Linked DNA regions of Homo sapiens: region 2 is linked to region 1. The links come from fine-mapping of genetic effects on gene expression. A gene starts in region 1. The other region holds a variant in brackets. All regions are shown on one strand. Distances are from middle to middle. Region 1 holds the start of ADCY5 (adenylate cyclase 5). Region 2 overlaps ADCY5 (adenylate cyclase 5).

Region 1 (2,896 bases):
GGTCCACCAGATGCCCTCAGAGGCGCTGCGTGGCTGCGGCAGCAGCAGGCCCACCACCTGGACGGCCAGCACCACGGCGATGAGCGCATAGCAGGCCAGGCCCATGTGGTCCTGGTGGAAGGCGGCGCGGTTGCAAAGCACAGCCATGATGAGGATCACGCCGACGGCGGCCGCCAGCACGGCCAGGTAGGGCAGCTGGAGCGGGGGCCGCGCCGCGTGGAAGGCCAACATGACCAGGCACACGAGCACCAGCACGGCCATGAGCATGGTGAGGCTGCTCTGGTTCAGGCGGAAGAAGTAGCGCTGGTACAGCCGCTCCAGTTTGTCCGACGGGAACTTCTTGGAGCGGAATATCTGCAGCAACGCCAGGCAGCAGGCGCCCAGGGACAGCACCGCGCCGGGCCCCGCGCCCGAGCCCGAGTCCGCCGAGCTGCCGCCATCCCCGGACCCCTCGCCGCCCTCGACGGCGCCGGCCTCCAGCTCGTCGGCCGCGCGCCCCTTGCCCCGCCGCTCCTCCAGACCCACCTCCACCGAGCGAGGGCGCACCTCCGTCCCGCCCGCCGAGGCAGCCGCCGCCGCCGAGCCGCCGCCGCCGCCCGCAGGGGGCGCCCGGGTGCTGCCCCCGCTGGCCGCGCCCCGCCGCTGCCGGCGGCTGCCGCGACCGCAGTCGTCGCCGCCGCGCTCCTGCCAGGCGGACTTGGAGCGGAAGCTGAAGCCGAAGCCCCCGGCCAGGGGGTCGTCACCGCTCAGCGGAGGATCGTCGTCGTCGTCGCTGCGCCAGCGGCTGGCCAGGCGCTGCTGCTGCTGCGGGGTCACCGCCCCCCCGGGTTTCTTGGTGGAGCCGCGGGCAGAGCCCCCGGGGGCATGGGGGTAGCCATTCGCGCGGGAATCGGCCTCGCCCCACGCAGAGCGGTGTTCGGGGCCTCCCCGGGGCGCCGGCGCCGCAGTCTTCTGCGCCGCGTAGCCCGGGGGGCTCACGCTTTTGGAGCCGGACATCCCCCCCTCGGCCTCGTCGTCTCCTTCCTCCTCCCCCGGAAGCCGGGCCGGGGGTCTCCAAGGGGAGGGCGGACGGCCGAGCAGGGGGACCAGGCTAGGGTCACACGTCGGGGGCGGCCCGGGGCCCTGCGCTGCAGCGGGGCATCTTGGCACCCCCGTCCTGAGCGGAGGAGGAGGGCACAGCCCCGAGGTGAGAAGTAGCTGAGGATCCGCGTCAGAAGTCCCAGGTCCGAAATGGAGTTGCCTCCGAGGTGGGGTCGCAGGGACTGGTCTGGCTGCTGCTGCGCCGCACGCGGAGAGACGTCCGGGATCCTGGCTCGCGTCGAGCTCGACGAGGGCCGGAGTTGCGGACGAGACGGGACGGAGTGGTGTCCTTGCGGGCGGTGCCTCCTCGGGCCGGCAGTGCCCGGGCGCGGCGCTCGCTGATTCCGCCTAAGCGGAGCCCAGCTGCTCTCGGGGCTCGGCGGCGGCGAGGGCGGCTCGGCGGGGGTCCCGGCGAAGAGACACTGCGGGTGCGCTTTCCTCGCAGCGGACTGGGAGCGACTGGGAGGTGCGGGCGCCAGCCAGCATTATTTTCTTACGAGGGGTGGGGAGGTGGGATGGGAGGTGGAGAGGACGGGGGAGGGGGCGACGGGCGGAGCAACAGCTCCGGAGCCCCGGGGGGGAGGGTCCTGGAGCCCGGGGGGGCCGTTGCCCGCATCCCCCACCTCTCGCGGCGAGAGTGGATGCGTGGCCCCGGCGAAAGCCGAGCCGAGCCTTCGGCGCGTCCGCGCAGGGGGCGGGGTCCGGGTCAGGGACCGGCTCCTGCGGTGCGGCCCTTCCCCTCTCGCCTCTCCCTTTCCCGCAAACGGAGCGGGGCCGGCCGGGACCTGCCGGCCCGGAGAGCTGTCGCGCCCGCTTCGCAAGCCCCAAGCTCCTCGTCGCCGGCTGCGGGCCCACCGCGGCCGGCGCGGAACGACTAGGCGGAGGACGGAATCCGGCGCAGCGCTGCCGCGGTTCTGCCCCGACGCAGGCAGGCTTCTCCCGGGGAGTAAGGCATCCAGAGATCCAGCGCCGGGGCTCAGAAGCAGCCGGCCCAGAGGGGCCCGCCTGAGAGCCGCGGCGCCCGAGAGGCGCTCCGGGGGGGCCCGCGGGAGCCCGGCTCAGGGCGCGCCATGCACGCTTCGGGCCCTGCGCCGCTCCGGCCGCTCGCGCCGCTCCTCCCTTCTCGCCCGCTCGCCGCCGCCGGAGAGCCCTCCGCATCCCCTCCTCCCGCTGCCTCCCCGCCCCCCGCGCCGCCCGGGCCTCGGCTCACAGCCGCGCGAGGCCGCCTCCGCCCCCGGCCTGGCCATGGCCCCAGCCTCGGCGCCCCGCGGGCATCCTCAGGCCTGGCCGCGGGCACCCCAGTTCCCCTTCCTCACCTAAAATTCTCGCTGCGCCCCTCCCTCCCTGGGACTAGGAGCCGCATCCAGCCTGCGGTCCCGTCACCAGACCTGGGTGGAGCGCGGTCTTCCCCCGCCCCCGGCCAGGGCTCCAGCGCCCCCAGTCCTAGCTCCCCTCTTTTGTATCCCCCTTTAATCCCCCTCCCCCCATTTAACCCAACTTCAGCCCCGGCGCTGCGCCCCCCTTCCCTGGCCCGGCTCGATTGGCCGCTTCCGGAGCTGTCAGACTACAGTCCGGCGCTCTTATTGGGCGATTCTCTGGCCCGGCGGCTGTGCCAAAGGAGGGCGCACCGGGTGGGGGGCGCCTGGGCAGCGAGTGCCTCAAGGAGAAGGAGAACAGAGTCCCTGGAGGGGTCTCAGGGGCCGGAGAGCCAGACCCGGAAATGGACAGGGGAGATGCAGAAACAGGACTTCTGAGACGCAGGAAGACAGTGATGGAAAAGATGGTGATGCAGTGGGTGAGGCCGATGCAGCCGGGG
Region 2 (2,896 bases), 57 kb before region 1:
AGGTGAACAGGTGGCCTGTGGGAGCCTAGATCCTCCTAAAATGGTTTTGAGCTTTCTCTGCATCCACAGAGGTGCATTTCCCTGCAGGAAGGATGATACATGCTTAGATTTTTCAGAGGCCCAAAGGAAGATAAAAAGTTGCTTTGGGGGATTAAAAGACACCATGGAGTAAAGACAGAGGGCTGGGCTTGGCCTCCCCTGGGGCGTGGCAGATGTGAGTGAAGAACCTTCCTCATAATCCCATGGTGATCCTGGGCCATCAAGGCTGCAGGTGCAGCACAGCCTGAGGCTAGGCCACCCAGTCCCATCCTGGGAATGGACTCAGCTCCTTCTCACCTTTGCCCACTCAGGACAGCAGGCTGAGGTCTGCATCCCCGAGGGTTCATCTCTGAGGTCTGCTCTCACATTGCCAGTCAACCTGCAACTGGCACGCTATAAAGAGAGACACGTGGGATGTGAGATGGACATTTCAAGGCCTCCCTCTTCCCTGGAATAAGGTGCCTAAAGCTGACTTTGGAAAACCAGAAGCCAAACACTACAAGGACACCGTGCTGACCCAGCCTTGGGCAGAGGCCAGCACACTTCCCATCTGCCCCTCCAGGGGCTTGGGGGCCGCCCAGCACACCTGCACATGAGGACCAGCTGCCCAAACAGACTGACCAGGGGTTCCTGGAAGCTCTAAGGATATACAGGGCATGCTGATACCTCTAGGCGGGTGGGAGGGGAGGAGACGGAAGGGAAAGGAAGCAAAAGTGTGTGGGTCTGGGGTAAGGAAAGGGAGCTACATTCTGAGGATTTCAAAGCACGTGCCACTCCTGAGGCTTTCAGGCCACAAAACCTGGCCAAACCCCCCCTTTCCAGCCTGATGACCACAGACTGTCTAAACACTTCCAGATGTCCTTGAGGGCTGTGCAGGGGACGGCAAGTGCAGCTTGGACAAAACAGAGTGAAAGATCACCTCTTGGGAAAGAGAAGCTATAAATTACTATTATGACTTCCCACCCAGAAGGAGGGAGACACCCTGGGGCTGAAGACTGAGGGCGGCCAATGGAGACGTCCTTCCCAGGAGGACACCCAGTCAAGGACACTGCCTGGGCTGTCTCCAGTTGCCTTGTTCCAGTCCAGCCTCCACCATCACCCCTTCCCAAGGTCTAAATGCCACAGTACAGAAATATTACCAAAATATTCTCATCCTCACCCCAAGCAATGGGCTTAGCTTTTCCAGGGCCTGGGGTTCCTGTTAGGTCAGAGTAGTAACACAGGCAGGCCCTGCAA[C/G]TTTAGTCTAACCTCCACTTGCACAACTCCAGGGGGTGCCATTCACAAGTGGGCCACATCTGAATGACTGCCCTGCAGGTACAGGACCTTATGCTATAGTCCCACCGGCTAACAGTTCGCCTGGGGTGGCCGGTGGATCTACAACCAGCTCTCCTCCACCAAGCTCCCAGCTTGTCTGTCCAGCAACTTCATCTCCGTCCCAGGGGTACCCACAGTCCCACCAGAGTGTCCTGGGGCCCTCAAAGCACCCCCATCACACTGGGACTCTGGCAGTAGGGGCAGAGTCAGCAGCTGCTGAAAGCCTGCCTGCTCTGGACGAGCGCCTCCTCCTCACATCTAAAGCATTTGTCTTAATTTACTTTATGTAATTAAGAAAAATCCACTACTGTTGTGGCAGGAGTGGGGGAAGCAAGTTACACAACAGTATAGCCTCCGTTATACTAATTTGTTTTAAATGATTTCTAGAAAGAAATAGCAAAATGTGATAGAATTAAGGGGGATTTTATCCTTTCTCCTTTATACTTTTTTAACTTTCCAGATTGTTCAAGTGGTGTCTATGGCTTTATGATCACAGAAACAGGGCTATGAATGTGAGCAAGTTTTTTTCTTCCCCTAGAGACACTTAAGATGTAAGTTCTGGGAGCTCCTGGAAGGCTACAAACCTGCCTGGGGTTCAGAAAGTCTGAGGAAGGGCTTAGATGGGCTCGGTCTGCAGGCAGCACAGGTTAGGCAGTGATCCACGGGGTTATCATAAACCGCAGACTTAGAGAGGCACAGAGACCATCCCCAGCTCTCATCAAAAGGTCAGCTGACCAAGGCCAGAGGGCACAAAGCTTGCCTAAGGCCAGTCAGCCGATGAGTGGTGACAAAGCTGGAGTCTGAATCCAGGCCCTCGGTCCCCAGGCAGACAGTGTTACTCCCCTTCTCTGTATCTTTCTTTCTCTCTGCATGTCTCTCTTTCTCCAACTTTCTGTCTCTTTCTCAGTCTCTGCCTCTCTGTCTCCCTCTCCCTCTCTCTCTCTCCCTCCACCACCACCTCCCTCTCTTGCACGCTATACCTCCAGGCCTCACTAAAGACTCTAATGGTGCCCCTTATTCATCCTCCCACATAGGACAGTCACTTTTTTTTGTGGCAGGAGAATACAGCATCCACAGGAGGCCACCACTTTCTTAACTTTCCAGATTGTTCAAGTGGTGTCTGTGGCTTTATGATCAGAAGGGGGTCTCTACCACCCCCAGTGACTCTAAATGCACTGAGCTGAGACAATGGCACATGCTAGGAAGACTGGGAATTTCAGTCCCTGTAATCAGACCACAAACAAGGCAACAGGTGAGGCAGGCACAGAGGCCCATGTTCCTGCCACCTGCTGCCCCGACACACACTGTACCAACAGTCTTCCCCCAGTGATACAAAAGAGCCCGGGGTCGAGAGTGAGGCAGGCCTTGGTTCAAGCCCTCTCACTCAGAACTCTGCAGCCTTGGGTTCATTAAACCTTCTTGGAATCCCTGTGTCCTCATCAATAAAATGAGGGTGTTGGCCGGGTGCAGTGGCTCCTGCCTGTAATCCCAGCACTTTGGGAGGCAGAAGTGGGAGGATTACACAAGGACAGGAGTTCAAAAC

Evidence for each region. PIP is the estimated chance that this variant, and not a neighbour inherited with it, causes the effect.
Region 2: its variant is the best candidate, but not a certain one, in a credible set for the expression of ADCY5 in tibial artery (GTEx, PIP 0.59).

The regions. Positions count from the first base shown.
Region 1 is chr3:123,447,550-123,450,445 of GRCh38, forward strand. ADCY5 (adenylate cyclase 5) reads right to left here and starts at 1,541. Exons shown (of 21, transcript NM_183357.3): 1 at 1-1,541. The coding sequence starts at 996. RefSeq lists an enhancer at 1-602.
Region 2 is chr3:123,390,459-123,393,354 of GRCh38, forward strand. All of the region lies in intron 1 of ADCY5 (adenylate cyclase 5), which reads right to left. Among named protein-coding and RNA genes, the nearest start is that of ADCY5, 57 kb to the right of the region's middle. The variant C/G (reference allele first, on the strand shown) is at 1,276.